Regions from separate parts of the Homo sapiens genome. Here region 2 is linked to region 1. Evidence: fine-mapped expression QTL. A gene starts in region 1. The other region holds a variant in brackets. All regions are shown on one strand. Distances are from middle to middle.

Evidence for each region. PIP is the estimated chance that this variant, and not a neighbour inherited with it, causes the effect.
Region 2: its variant is the best candidate, but not a certain one, in a credible set for the expression of PAPSS2 in whole blood (TOPMed, PIP 0.54).

Annotation. Positions count from the first base shown.
Region 1 is chr10:87,656,786-87,664,785 of GRCh38, reverse strand. PAPSS2 (3'-phosphoadenosine 5'-phosphosulfate synthase 2) reads right to left here and starts at 4,908. Exons shown (of 13, transcript NM_001015880.2): 1 at 4,778-4,908. The coding sequence starts at 4,804. RefSeq lists a silencer at 4,921-5,160.
Region 2 is chr10:87,686,980-87,694,979 of GRCh38, reverse strand. The region is part of intron 1 of PAPSS2 (3'-phosphoadenosine 5'-phosphosulfate synthase 2); the gene reads right to left. Among named protein-coding and RNA genes, the nearest start is that of PAPSS2, 31 kb to the right of the region's middle. The variant G/A (reference allele first, on the strand shown) is at 4,710.

The sequences.
Region 1 (8,000 bases):
CTAAGACTTCCAAACACAAAGACTAATGAGTGCCCATTACTATTTAGTGATAGATTTTGAAATAAACAGAAATCTCCTAGGACTGAGATTGACATCATTGATGCCTTTCCCAGACTCTAATTCCCTAAAAGTTCCATGTTAGAGGTAAGCCTAATTATCCCCTCAGCAAACCACAGAGCCACATGCATCAACAGAAAAGTGATAAAAGACAAAGATAACTATCTCAAAGAGACATATAACTGAGTTAACCACATTTATCTTTTAACCGCACCAAAGTCCAAACAGATGATCTAATAAATGGCGATGGCATGAATTGGGAAACACTAATTTTAAGGTGCACATAGGAATAGTTGAAGGCACAGGAAGGGTGGAGAGAAGTTAGTCCAATATTTACTCTATGCATGGATTATCTTTCTTGGCCAAAGTTGTTGGCAAAAACTCACTGATACTCTGGTACCTCTACCAGAGGTCAACCAGTGTCTTCTATCCAGCCTATCACAATAAGAATTCAAATTGTCACCTCTATATTTCTGCATTTGTTTTTCCTTATTAAATATTCTGGCTGGCCAAGCACAGTGGCTCAAGCCTGCAATCCTAATACTTCGGGAGGCCAAGGCAGGAGGATCTCTTCAGCTCAGGAGTTCAAGACTGGCCAGAGCAACAGAGTGAGACCTCATCTCTACCAAAACAACAACAACAAAAACTTTAAAAGTTAGCCAGGCATGATGGTGTGCACCTGTAGTACTAGGTACTTGGGAGGCTGAGGCAGGAGGATCACTTGAGCCCAGGAGGTCGAGACTGCAGTGACCCATTATAGCAGCACTGCACTCCAGCCTGTCTCAAAACAAAACAAAAATATTCTGGCTGTTGTCATTTACTGAGTCTTCAAAACAGTATGATGTGTGCTGTTTTTTCTTTTTATGTATGCCAAACCATGACAGTATAGTTTAATACAAATGAAATAGCTACTGCATATGAAGCACTAACTCTGGGTCTGGCACTGAGCAAGACAATTTTTAGGAGTTACTTACTTTTCACGACAATTGTAAGGGGAAAGTTATTATTACCCACATTTTACAGATGAGAAAACTTTGGGCCAGAGCAGTTACATCCTGAAACAGAAGTACGGAGGGGGTCAAGAGCATGAGTTTTGAAGCTGGACAGACCTGAATTTCAGTAGTGCCCTGCCCCTGGTATTTCTCCTCCCCTGAAGACAAAGCTGTTTCCTGAGATGAGAGCTACTGTGGGGATGAGATGTCTGAGTGTCTGGCCTCTAGGAAATGCTTTTTGTCCCTCCTTCCAGTAGTTGCTCATCTAGAATTCATGTCTTGCCTTCGGTAGTGTCTTTATATAGTTTTAAAAGTAATTACTTCTGGCTGGGGGCAGTGGCTCAAGCCTGCAATCCCAGCACTTTGGAAGGTCAAGGTGGGTGAATCACCTGAGGTCAGGAGTTCGAGACCAGCCTGACCAACGTGGCAAAACCCCGTCTCTACTAAAAATACAAAAATTAGCTGGGCGTGGTGGTACACACCAGTAGTGCCAGCTACTCGGGAGGCTGAGGCAGGAGAATTGCTTGAACTCGGGAGGCGGAGGTTGCAGTGAGACGAGATCGCTTCTCTGCACTCCAGCCTGGGTGACAGAGCGAGACTCCATCTCAAAAAAAAAAAAAAAAAAAAAAAGTGGCTACTTCTAGAAAAATAATGTTATACTGTGCACAATTCTGAAAATAAGGAAAAGGTAATTAGCAGGGCATGATGGTGGTGCCTGTAATCCCAGCTACTTGGGAGGCTGGGGCAAGAGAATGGCTTGAACCCGGGAGGCGGAGGTTGCAGTGAGCTGAGATCATGCCACGCTACTGCACTCCAGCCTGGGTGACAGAGTGAGACTCTGTCTCAAAAAAAAAAAGAAAGAAAGAAAATAAATAAGGAAAAGGTTGATAATCCCTTACATCTATGGAGAGCGCTGTGGTTTTCAGTATCTTTTCACTCCTTTCCAATTGTTTTCCTATTTGATCCTTCGGAAATAACTTAATATCTCAGTCAATGTTTTCAGATTGGGTGTCTCCAGAACATAACAGCACTGTCTGTGGGCCTTGAAAAATGTTAATCCAGGAAATGATGTAAGAGGAAAGGCCCAGGCCTTTGCCTTCCCTTCTTTCCAGTCCCCTAGAGGCAGTCTGTCCCTTTCCCTCTCCTAGGTGTCTATGTGTGTGTATAGGGGGTGGGGGTGGGAGGGTAGCCAGGGTTGGAGGTAAGTGAGGGGTGGAAATGATGAAGGGATGAATGTGACTGGTAGCTGTTTCTTTGGTTTCCATGGTAAAGATGCATAAAACAGAAGGAATGTGCTACCTTCCTTTATAAAAGAACACTTAATTTATTTTTTCTAAAGCTTATGAAAAAGTCATCCTACACTCTCTCATTTAAACCAAAACTATCTCCTCTTCCTAGAGTGGTCTGAACTGAAAGGCAATATTCATCCAGAGAGTGTGGCCAAAAAAACCTGGAAAAGAGGTATCTCCTTTTCCGCCTCCCCCACCCAGTATACCACCTGGCATACAGTAGGTGCTCAACAAATATTTGAAGTTACTGTAGTGGCTGCTGTGTGAATTAACTGTCCTCTGTTGACAGTGCAGTAAACAATGTGATGATTCCTATAAGACCGTAAAAGATCAGCTCAGTCTCACTCCTAGGCTAGCTTGTGAGGTCAGCAATACTTATCAAACAATTGATTAGTTCAGAGGTCACACAAGCGGACAGATTTTGCTTTGGCCTGCAAGGTTTCAAAACACATTTTGAATGAACATTCAAAGCTTGAGAGATTCCACATGCATTTACAGCTGGCTTGCTGTAAATAGTACCGATAGTACCTATCTAGCCCTTTTGGGAACTTGGGTTGGTGCCTGGGTTATAACTGCGTTAGACTAAATCAAAATTCAGAAAAGTTCTATTTCAGTTAGCTGTTTCAGGAGTTAATTTAATGCTGTATAAAACAGACACACACATACACCCACCTAACAAAAAATAGAAGGTTCAGAATGTGTAAATACAAAAACCAAACCCTCCGGCCCTCAAATTTCTCACTGCTTCTGACTGTGCAGAGCCCCCGCAATTGATTTGTAATGACCCTGTTCTCAAACCCTCCTCTTCCTGGGCTCCTGCCGACTGGAGGCATCAAGAGGAGAGACCACCTCGTCCCTTTCTAATGCTTGACAAAGTCCCCCATCACAACTGAGAAGGAATTCTTGATGCAAGCAGGAAGGTGGGAATTAAAACCCCACTGATATAAAAAGCTACTGGCACAGCGGCTTGCCATTTAGAAGACACTATTTAGGATTTTACAGAAATTAATCGCATTAAATAGGAACAAAATACAAGTGATTTTCATTTATTATTTCAAAAATATGTTACAACGCTGAGAGTCCCCCACTTAAAAATTACTCCTGAGAAAGGCAGCTGGATTTTGATAAATGTCCCTTCCCAAATTGATGCCACCTACACCCTGGACCCTCCTGCTGGTCCAGTATGGTCCCTGGAGCCACAGAGCCCCCACCCTGTTCTCTTGCTGCTCAAATGACCCTTCTAGCCCTGCATGGCCCCTCCACACTCCTTCCCCACTTCTTGGCTTTATATTTTGTTTTTTTTTTTAAACCTCTCCCCGGCCCACCACAAATACACCTCAAAGATATTTCGGTAATACACATTATATAAGAATAAACATTTATCAGGCACCTACTATGTGTCCATTGCACGTCTATCTACTAGAGAGAGGTCAACCCATTCAGTAACCAGTACAATCATCTGAGGCTTGCAGGGTGGTGGCTGAAGATAGAATGTTCAGCGGCCAAACTGCTGAGTAGGATTTTATCAAGGCTTGCTGACCACATCTGACGTGGCCCCAGTGCTGTCTAGAAGGCGCCATCCAACTCTAAGAGTCTATGATTACTGCTCCCGGTTTTTTTTTTTTTTTTTTTTTTTTTTTTTTCAGTTTATTGGGGTATAATTGACAAATAGAACTGCTGCCATTTTTAAGAATGCAAAATTTATAGGTGCCCATGTTGCTGGGAAAGAAACTTTTCTCTTTGACACGCCCTCATATTTCCCATTAAAGGAGGACAGCTCAGATTATTAATTCTGGGTAAAAGTGTGCCTCCTCAACACAGTCCCCTCATCTTACTCCACCAAACCGAGGGGCACCCTCACCCCTCATTACTGAACTCGAGATGCCACCCAATGCCGAAATCAAGCTAGAGGGCTAAATCCCGCCAGTGTAGAAATGCAATTTCCTCCAGTTTGCTTTGATAATTGCAGTTTCCTCTATGAAAGTCCGTCATTAAAGCCCACTCCAAGGAAGTTCCCATAGACAAAACCCCAGCGACCAGACCTGGCAGAACGGGAGTCAGCTCGATCTGCTCCGAGACCCTACAGAAGAAAAGGCGGGTCTGGAAGAGCTCTTGGGAAAGAAAGGGGATTTCCTGTCCCTGGTCCTGGATCTAGATCCGGACCCACTTGAGAAGCTCGGGAGGTCTCTCGCGGGCGCGGCGACCCCAAGGAGCGCAGATTCCCAGAGTCGCGGGGTGGAGAGGGGCTGCGGGGCGAGGACTGCCCCGGGAATTCCACACAGAGCCTCTTTCTCTTGCTTCCCTCCGTGCCCCACTCTTACTCCTCCTCCCGACGCCCCCTCCCGGGGAGGGTGGGACCCAAGTGCCGGGGAATTGGGGGTTGGGGGTCGGCGCGTGCAGTGCGGTGGCGGGGAGGGAAGCCGGCGCCTGGAAGCCTACCGTCTTTTGCTTCTTGATCCCCGACATGCTGGCTGGCTGCGGCGGAGCCCGGGTCCCGGGAGCAGAGACCGAAGGACGCAGGGACGGCGGCGGCGGCGGCGGCAGCAGCAGCAGCAGCAGCAGCAGCGGCTGCCGGACTCCCGGGAAGGAGGTATAAAAAGGCTCCGCAGACACGTCGCACTTCCCTTGACCAGCCCCCTTCTCCTACTCCTCCTCCCGCCACGCTCCTCTCCGCCCCGTCGGTTCCGCAAGCAGCGCCCAGCCTTGGGGACCCGGCCGCCGCCGCCTAGGCGGGGTCCCCGGCCCGGCCCCTACTCGCGGGCGCGCGCTCCGCCAGCCCCGGTCCCGGGCGAGACCTTGCAGCGGAGCGGCAGATGGCACGCCCGGCACGCGGCCTGGGGTCAAGTTCACCCCGCCCGCCCCACCCCCAGAGGGTCCCAGAGCGTCCTCCACTCCCCTCACCAGCCTCCCGCGCCTCTTCAAGGAAGTCTTCCTGCCTCTAGGACCTAAGAGCTTATTTGGTTAAGGGCAAGGATGCTTGAAGCCGCCAGGTTTGTTGGCAGGATCCTCATATGCAGTAGTAAAAACGAAGGTTCACACTCATGGATCCTTACAATGCACTCCGCTGGGCTCTGCCTTAATTCTCATGGGCCCCCTCCATCCTGCCCCGACCCCGGGCAGCAAGTCCTACTATCTTCCAGTTTTACAAACGAGCAATTGAGGCTTTCAGACTTTGCCAAGATTATATTCCAAATGAGGGGATTCAAACCCAGGCTGACAGCCTCCTCAGTGCAGGCTTTCTTCACCAGCATCATCACACATGGTGATAACTCCCAAGGTTCACAGCTTGTCTGTTCACTATGCATCGTGCTGAGGGGCTTCCATGCACTTCCTCCATTCCCGCTCACAACAGTATCGTCAGGTTACAGGTATGGGCCTGTGGAGGCACGGCCCCTCCTCACAACGACAAGCAAGTGGCAATGGCCAATGGAAGCCCAGCAACTTGTTTCAGTCCACCCCCAAAGTAGCACTTCTGTTCCACTGGAATGGGCCCTGAGGAGGAGGAAAAGGAGGCACAAGATGAGCAGGCTTAGGCCTAGGGCGCCAAGATTTTACCAGAAGGCAGTATGGGGCAACCCTCTGAACGAACCCAAAGGCAGTATGGGGCAACCCTCTGAACGAACCCAAATGTCAAGGCCAAGTAGAGGTGAGGGAGAGAAGCTCTAGTGACAAGCACTTTGGGGGCAGTCACTGGGTCTCACACCCCTTGTACCTTAACTGACTCCTTGTGTAATGCTACAAACGGATGGATATGACCATACTCTCAAAAGAAGTAACGTAACACACAAGGGCCACACTTCTCATTCCCACTCTAGTGTTCCTGCTGTGAAAGAGTTGGAGTAATATTCTATGGAGGTGAGGGATGGGACTTTTCTTTCATACCTAATTGTATTTCTGGAAGACTGCCAGCTTTCCAGACAGACACTTGATCTGAGTATTCATTGACTGCCCTTCGCCGTGGGAAGGTGGGAAAGAAAAATAAATCAGGAGTCAGAAACGTAAAAGGCAGCCTGCATGTCTGTACAGTCTAGAGTTGTAAGCTGATTTATTTTCTTACTCATTTTGAGTAAACTGCCACCACTGCCTTCCAATGTAAGCAGCTAGGGGCAAATACTGAGTTTGAGTTTCTGTTCTGCATACAAACTAGCACATTTTAAATGTATATGAAGTTTAAATAGCAACATCCTATTCTTATTTCATTGGAAAAATCCTTTTATATTAGTTTCCACCATATCTTAGACTCTGCCAGATCTTGCCCTAAGAAAAGGTAAAGTAAATGTGAATTGAAAAATAGCAATTTGCGGCCTGGCACGGTGGCTCATGCCTGTAATCCCAGCACTTTGGGAGGCCGAGGCAGTCAGATCACCTGGTATCAGGAGTTCGAGACTAGACTGACCAACATGATGAAACCCTGTCTCTAATAAAAATACAAAATTAGCCAGATGTGATGGCATATGCCTGTAATCCCGGCTACTTGGGAGGCTGAGGCAGGAGAATCGCTTGAACCCGGGAGGCAGAGATTGCAGTGAGCCGAGATTGCGCCATTGCACTCCAGCCTGAGTAACAAGAGTGAAACTCCATCTCAAAAAAAAAAAAAGAAAAATAGCAATTTGCGTGATTGTTATTTTGTTTTTATATTGCATCTAAAAACAAAAAGCTGTCTTCTTGAAACAGGAAGTTAAGGACAAATACGTAAGCTACTTCCTGGAAAAGAAATATATGATTGTTTAGATCTGGGAGAGGTTGTGAGATCATTTGTCCAATTTCCCCATTCCTGTATTTTACATATGAGCAATGTAAAACTGGCGCTTAGGGAAGGGAGGGCATCTGACCGTAGTCACTAGTTAGGAGCAGAGCTGAGGCTTTAACGCAGGTCAGCCTGACTTCCCAAGTGCTCTGACCCCAAATGTCCTGCCCACTGAGTCACCCAACTTCCACGCCAACTATTTCAATACCCCATGATAACTGTAAACAGGACTGCTTATCTTGTTTTAGATTTCATTCATTCTCAAAAATTATTTTGGAATAGGCATTCTTTTACTGTGAAAATGGAGGCCTCAGTTCTTTTGGACTCAAGCTAGGCTGTTTATGACCCTTTGATGTCACAGATCACCAATTTAGTCGTGATTCAGCACAGCAGTTTACTAAAAAGCAAAACACTCTTTTTTTATTTTCTCAGGGTCTTTCCTTTTAAAGGCAATAGATTTCTTTTTCATCTCACTACCCTCTTGCTCTTAGGAGAGGACATTCCTTCTGAAAAGATATGAGCAACGAGAAACTTAATTTTCGGAGCCTATGATTCGGACATATAGGAACTGGGAGAAGACTCATTCAGGGGACAGAGGAAGGATTGAGGTCTTCTGCTTCATATAGACACAGAATCTGTAACTTCTTCAGTAGTGTTCCCTCCAAGACTTCCCTGAAAAACACCATAGATAACATTGTGCCAATTGATCATCCCTGATACTACTGATAACATTTACATGAAGGTTTCCCCTGTACCACCCCTTCTCCACCATCTCATTTTCATTTCTTCCTTCCAGAAGCTGTCTGCACTTGCATAACTTAATAAAATGGTGATTGCTAGTTGATCCTTATATTGTTTAGAAAAGATAGAATCAGTCAACTCCTCCAAATAAACAGGAGAAGGATATACAAAGAA
Region 2 (8,000 bases), 30 kb before region 1:
CATTGCTGTGCGTAAATATCCCCCTTGGCCTGGCCTAACTTTTTGGACCTGTTCCTGAACACAGTCCCCCATGAACCCTACTCCTTCTGAGTTTCCTCAAGGTTGTAAAGCAGCCATCACATCATTTCCCTGCCTGGCCCAGAGCCCCTTTACTGATTTCCAGCTCTATCACCTCTTTTTCCAGTTGACAATCAGGTTAATTTTCTAAAACACCCTTAAATCATGTTACTTTTATATCCAAAACTTGTAATCACTTCCTATAAACCACAGAACAAAGTCCTAATCCTTAGCTTGGAACTTAAGGCCCTCCGCTAAGCCGGTTCCATTTACCTTTCAGCCATATTTTCTACTCTCAGATAACAGAACTTTTGTTCTCAGCAGCAGGTCTGTTTATGATTTCCTGGACACAGCTTGGTCATTCTGGTTTTGCACCTTTTCTCATTCAGCTCTTCCCACTGGAATCATCTCTCCATGCCCTCAACTATCCACATACCACCTGTTCTCCAAGCAGCACAAACCCCATGGGTGCTGGCTGCCTTCCTTGATGCTTCTTTCCTAAACTCCTGTAGCTATGAGATCCTGTGGCACTTTGCCTGGGTGGTGTAGACTTATGCCTTATGTTTTCTAGATTTATAGACTTAAGTCTGATGTTTTAGATGTCATTGTCAACCCCACACAGAAGGGGCCATAGCTTATACAGCTTTGATTTCCTGATAAGATCCAGCTAAGAGGAAGTAATATAGATTTTAATGTTGGACAGTTTGGAAGCAGTTCAAATTCTGCCTCCACTAGAACCTTGAGCAAGCTAAGCCTGACCTCTCTACATCTCATAAAATTGTGGGATTATAGTTCCTGCTAATGTTTGCAAGGATGAAAAGAGATGATGTGGAATACTTGGACTTATAGTAGGTATTCATTACATATTTGTTGAATGAGTAACAGAAGTTTAATAAACGTTTCGTTGATTTGTTAACTGATGTGAATATCCTTAAACAAACTCCTCTAGTGTCAGTACTCAGTAAAATGACATGTTCCAAACTTTAGTTACAGTCACTTTTATGTTCTGTGTTAAAGATTTCTTCAAGTGAGACCTGCTGTGACCTGTCTTCTTCTAGGCCCCACCACAGAAAAAGCCAAAGCAGTCCAAACGTTTAAAAGAACGAACTACCATTCACAAATGCATTTGTAAAATATCCTTTGAAATCAGCATCAAATAATTATGTGCTGTTGTAATTATAGTTCTGGTGAGCTCTCCATATTCTATGAGAATTGATTAAGCTAATGTGAACCAATGCATTTCAGTTAGTGCTGAAATCCAAGTTATCAACTAAATCTAAATAAACGACCGAACTGGACACTTATTTAATACAGTGCTTTTGTATGTCAAACGCGCCACATGCTCTGAGCACATTCTCAAGTAGGTTATTCCACTGCTTCTTCCTCCACAAATATGAACAATCCAAAGATAGCTAATTAAAATATGTGTTATTATGAACTGAAAGAGTCCTTCGGTTGGAAATGACCTGAAATCACCATTCTGAAAAGTCTACACAAAAAGCTGGCATATGCAAAGGTTGTTCACTCTCTGCTGGGGAACAATTAAATTCAAAATTCATTCAGCTGCTACTCTGTCTAAACACCATGCACTGGAAAGGCAGATTCCTAAGGCTAAGAAAGACCAATAAACTCATCATGCTCTCAGGTAAACAGAATCACAGGACTTCAGTGTGGCCATGCCAGCCTGGCTCAAGGCCTCATTTTATGTGTGATATTCTGATGATTCCATTAAAAGAACTCAGGAAACTTGATCAGAAGGCACAGTCTCCCACCCAGTCATCAAAAGTGGACCCAGGGAAGGATTCTGCCCTTTTAAGGGAGAGCAAAGCAAAGGGCATTTTTGGAAGAGTCAGATTAACGCCTTTCTAGAGACTTACTGTCATTATTAGTAGTAGAGGACTCAATTCACTGTAATATGACTTCCATGCTCACCATTATATTCAAACAGATTAAATGAATTACCACGTGTAAGGTGTTTAAAACAGTGCCTAATCAACATTGGGGGTTGTTATGATGATTATTGGCAAGATCTTCAGTGTTTATCCTCTTTCCCCTGCACACTCAGTGATCTGCTCAGCCACAGCTACAGACTCAACCTCGCGGGCTACCCTCCCTATAAAATGGCTTATTGCACTAGGTTGACCCAAGTGAAATCAACACACAGGATGAACCCATTAGATTCTCTTAGGAATTTAAGCTGTATAAAATCAGACAACCTGTCAGTTATATGGTTGACCATTTAACTGGAGATTCATGTAGAATCTGGACTGGATTTGGCAAACCAAGGCATTAGAAGCAGAAACAACAAGCAGCCAATAATCTCTAAAACAGCATCTCTCTTCCATTTCTTCCCATTGACCACTCTTTTTCTGGAAAACTCTCTCTTCAGCTTCCAAGATAATGTTCTCTCTCAGAGCTTTTCTGTCTTCTCATCGCTCTTCCATAGACTCCTTGCCATATTCCTCTCTTCCTCCATCTCTCTTTAGGGTCAGGGATCCATAGCTCTGCCTTCAGCACTCTTCTACTCTTCCTCCCTACACCCCTCAGTGATTTGTACCTGCTTCCAAGGCTTTGTCTACCATCCATATGCTGCGGGCTCCCAAATCTCTATCTTCAGATATCCAAATGCCTAGTAGGTATGATTCCCCCCAGAGCCACTGAAACTCAGCAGGATCAAGATGGAATTCATCTTCCTATCATCACCCTTTGCTCCTTTTCCCATATTCCTCACCACTAGCGATGACCCACACTTCTCCCCATTTTGTAAGCTAGGAGCCATCCTATTGCTTGTCTCCTTCATTAAAAAAATTAATCTATCAAGTCTTGCAAATTTCAGCTAAACGCCATTCCATCACTGTTAGTTAGCTAATTGCTCCCAGAAGTCTTCCTGACAGCCTTTGAACTGGACTCCCTCTCTTCCATGAAGCCATTCTCTTCTTTGCCAGTAGAGTAAAATTCCCTTTAATTTTATTTTTTTTAGAGACAGGGTCTTGCTTACTCTGTCACACAGGCTGCAGTGCAGTGGCATGTTCATGGCTCACTGAACTCAAGTGATCTTCCCACCTCAGCCTTCCAAGTAGCTGTGACTACAGGTGTGCACCGACCATACCTGGCTAATTTTTAAAATTCTCCTTGCTTGGAAAGTCCTTTCTCCTTGGGTGCTTACTCACTCATTAAGGTGTGGCCTAAACATTGCTGTGAGGCTTTGGCTAATCTTCCCACCTACAGACAGACTGAGCAACTTCCTCCTCTGACCCCACAGTATCCTGTTTCTACTGATATCTCATTTCCCAAACTTACCTAATTTAAGACTCTCATGGGCACTTGTTAAAAATACACATTCCCAGGACCATCCCCAGGAAATTCTCATTCAAGTGGTCGGCGGTAGGGCCCAAGAAACTAGGGTTTTTATGTTGTTGCCTTTTTTTTTTTTTAAGTGTCTCAAGTGATTTTAATGCTTAGGCAAATCTAGGTAACACTAACCAATATAAGAGAACGTAGGTTAAATATGGATTTTTGCTGACATGTCGGCCTTCTTCACCAGATGGGAACACCAGAGAGGCTGCTTTGCTCACGTTTATCTTTGAATCTGTATGCCTGGAATACTATGGGGGTTCAAAATTTACTGAATGAATGTTTCTTAAACTAATTTGTCATGCCCATGATACTTCATAAACTTGGTTTGTTATTCAAATGTTTGTTATGGTCAAAGGTAGCGAGCCAGATGCTGAGATAGTCTTGGAAGAGGATAGGTGCCAAAGTGGTGGATAGGTCATAAGAATGGGAAATATTTAAAAATAATCTTGGCTGAGTCACAGATTTGGGGGCAGCCATACTTGGTAGTACTGTAAGATGAGCTCTACAGAATTAATAAAATTCACTGTGTAGAAAGATAGAAACTCTTGCCCCTCACCCCACCTCCCTCAGTTGGATGTATGTTCCCTTGAACAAGCAGAATGGTACAAAAGTTAAGAGCATGAACACAGGGTCATGATGGGTTGTGCATACTGATTCCACCAGTGGCCAACTGCTGTATGCCCTTAAGTAAATTACTTAACCTCTCTGTTCCTTCACTTATAAAATGATTGTAATAACAGCTGCAGCCTTACTGAACTGTTATGAGGATTAAATGAGGAAATGTACATAAAAGCACAGGGTCTGGCTCTTAGTTAAGCTCTCAATAAATGTTAGAAAAAGAAAAATAGTTGTTTTTAATGATAATTAAAATGGGTCTTTTCATCTCATCTCTTACCACTCCACCTTCACATTCTGCACACCTATCAATCTAACCCCTGAAATTCCCCCAGATATCCCTGTTCTCTCTGGCTTCTGGACCTAGCTCATGCTATATTCTTCTTAATTATTTAATTATTGCATAAGTCACATCCACATGGCTCAAAAACTGAAAAGATATATACACAAGCAGGTATGCAGAAGCCATGCTGCCACTTCTGCCTCCGCCCCCATCTCTCTAGCCTCCCTCCTCCTCACTTCTAAAAGTAGATGGTCATTTCTATTCGTTCCTTACATGCTCTGTCAGTTTTTTATGCATAAATTTTAAAATAGGCATTTATTTGCTTAATCCTCCTTTCCACACTATTACACACCTTTTTCAGATCTGTCTTGGCAAATCTTTCCACATCAGTACAGAG[G/A]GTTTTCTCATTCATTTTACCCTTGCATAATGTTCCGGTGTATGAATATATATTTAACTAGCTCTTTTTTGATGAATACTTGGATGATTTCCAGTCTTTTATTATTACAAACATTGCAATAATTAATAACCTTATACTTAATTTTTTGCATGTGAAAATATATCTGTGGGATTAATTGCTAGACGTGGATTACTAGGTCAATCAGTATGAACATCTGTCATATCAATAGATATAACTAAATTGTCCATTATAGAATATTACACCAATCTATACTCCTACCAGCGATGGATGGGAGTTTCAGTTCCCAACAGCATTGCCACAGAGTATATCAAGACTTTTGGATTTCTACCAATCTGATGAATGAACAATGGTATTTCAATGTGATTTTAGTTTAAATTTCTATTATAAGCTATATTGTACACCTTACACCTTTTATTATGTCTACGACTGTTTGTATTTTTTCCTTTTTCTTTTTTGGACTCTCATTCATACTCTTTACCCCTTGTTCTATTCCATTATTGGTCTTTTCTTATAATTTGCAGGAGCCCTGAAGATATTATGTAATCTTCCCAGTTCTTTTTTTTTTTCTTTTTTTTTTTTTTTGAGACAAGGTTTCGCTCTTGTTGCCCAGGCTGGAGTGCAATGGCACGATCTCGGCTCACCGCAAACCTCCACCTCCCAGGTTCAAGCGATTCTCCTGCCTCAGCCTCCCAAGTAGCTGGGATTATAGGCATGCGCCACCACGCCTGGCTAATTTTTTGTATTTAGTAGAGACGGGGTTTCACCATGTTAGGCTGGTCTCGAACTCCTGACTTCAGGTGATCCACCTGCCTCGGCCTCCCAAAGTGCTGGGATTACAGGCCTGGGCCACTGCGCCTGTCCCCCAGGCCACAAGTTCTTTGTGGGTTTTTTTTGTTTTTTTTTTTTTTTGAGATGGAGTTTTGCTCGTGTTGCCTAGGCTGGGGTGCAGTGGCATGATCTCGGCTCACCACAACCTCTGCCTCCCAGTTTCAAGCAATTCTCCTGCCTCAGCCTCCCGAGTAGCTAGGATTGCAGGCATGTGCCACCATGCCCGGCTAATTTTGTATTTTTAGTGGGGACGGGGTTTCTCCATGTTGGTCAGGCTGATCTCCAACTCCCGACCTCAGGTAATCCACCCGCCTTGGACTCCCAAAGTGCTGGGATTACAGGCGTGAGCCACCGCAACTGGCCCCGGCCCTGACCCCTGGTTCTTTATTCCTTAACTTTGTGAATAATGTTGTTTCTGACTTGTTTATGGAGTTGCTTTCCATACAGTTTTTTTTTTTAAGGTAGTTAAATTTATCCATCTTTTCTTTCAGGTGGGACTCCAATTATTCTGGTTATACCACTGCTTAGAGACAACTAGTGGAACTGAATGTGAGTATCACTTCAAGCAATTAAGAAAAAGAGAGAGTTATTTTGGTCGGTTTTACAAAGAAGTCTGAATAAGAAGGACTGTTTGGGTTTTTGTTTCTTAGAAATTTCCATAGTTCTGCCGGCCTTGGTGGCTCACGCCTGTAATCCCAGCACTTTGGGAGGCCGAGGCGGGAGGATCATGAGGTCAGGAGATCGAGACCATGGCTAACACAGTGAAACCCCGTCTCTACTAAAAATACAAAAAAATTAGCCAGGCGTGGTGGCGGGCGCCTGTAGTCCCAGCTACTGGGGAGGCTGAGGCAGGAGAACGGCATGAACCCGGGGGGCGGAGCTTGAGGTGAGCAGAGATCCCACCACTGCACTCCAGCCTGGGTGACAGAGTGAGACTTAGTCTCAATAAATAAATAAATAAATAAATAAATAAATAAAATAAAAAAGAAATTTCCATAGTTCTTCAGGGTTTTCCTCTGAAGAAGAAAGAGAATACATAATGTCAGTTACAAATGGTATATTTAAGGTTTTACCATCCTGAGATTTGACGAATTTATAATTATATTAAATTTACAGGTGTGTTTTATCATTATCTTTTGAAAAATAATAAACTCTAACAATAATTTCCATGCCTAATTGTTTTCCACACTATTGCATATAGTCATATATGCCTAATTTTTAACTAGAATATTATATATTAATTAGCTTTTTAGTGTTATTATATGTATTTTAATGAATTATAAATTCCTTAGAAGGCCTACAATAATTTTTACTTTATAGTAAGATTCCAGTTACACCTGACTAGTTAGTACACATCCATTTCTCCTGGATCAAATTCAACCCTGACAGAAATGAATATTAAATATACAGGACTTAATTGATTAGAACATTAGAATAAAAGTGTATATGAAAGAAAATAGGTGGCATTGTCCAATAGCACAGTCTAAATCAAATCATTTAAAAAATTACATCAAATCCAGATAAAACTATGGTTTAATTTCCACTTAATCATCATTTTTTGTATTCTTCTCTCTTGATTCTTTTTTCTTTTTAAGAGTTTTTTAAATTTTTAATTGAGACATAACTGTACATATATATGAAGTACAAGGTGATATTTCGATACATGTATACCTTGTGTAATGATGAAATCAGGGTAAGCATTCCATCACCTCAAACACTTATCATTTCTTCATGCTGAGAACATTCAACATCCTCTCTTCTAGCTACTATAGGCACTTCACTGTGCAATGGAACACCAGGACTTATTCCTCCTATGTAACTGTATTCATCCTCCCTTCCCTTCTATCGTTACCAGCCTCTGGTAACCACTATTCTACTCTCTATTTCTATGCGGTCATCTTTAGAATCCACATATGAGTGAGAGAACATGCTATTTGTCTTTCTGCATCACTTTTTGAAATGGAAATAACCTTTCGTATATTTAGAATTTGAATCCTTCAACCAAGTGGGCTAGTCTATTAAGCAAATTAACCAGTTAAAATCCAAAATAAGATAGTATTAGCCACAATAACTTTTTTAATATAGGAGCCTGTATTCCCACCTACGTCATAAGCATCATCAGTTAGTCATAGTCCATACTTATTTTATCATTTTGATTAATTTTTTCAAAATATATTTATTGAGCTCAACTATATGCCAAAGATTGTACTTGGGGCTGTGGGGATAGTGGTGAAAGGGACACACACAAGGCCTGCAGCTCCTAAAGTCACCTCTGACTCTAACCATCATGCCCAAAGTACTCAGCAAATATGAACTGTTGAAATTGTGCTGAAAATATATTGCAAACCTAGTTAAAATGACCAGATTTAACAAATAAAAACATAGGATGCCCCATGCAATATTTGAGACATACTTATATCAAAAAAGTATTTCTTGTTTGTC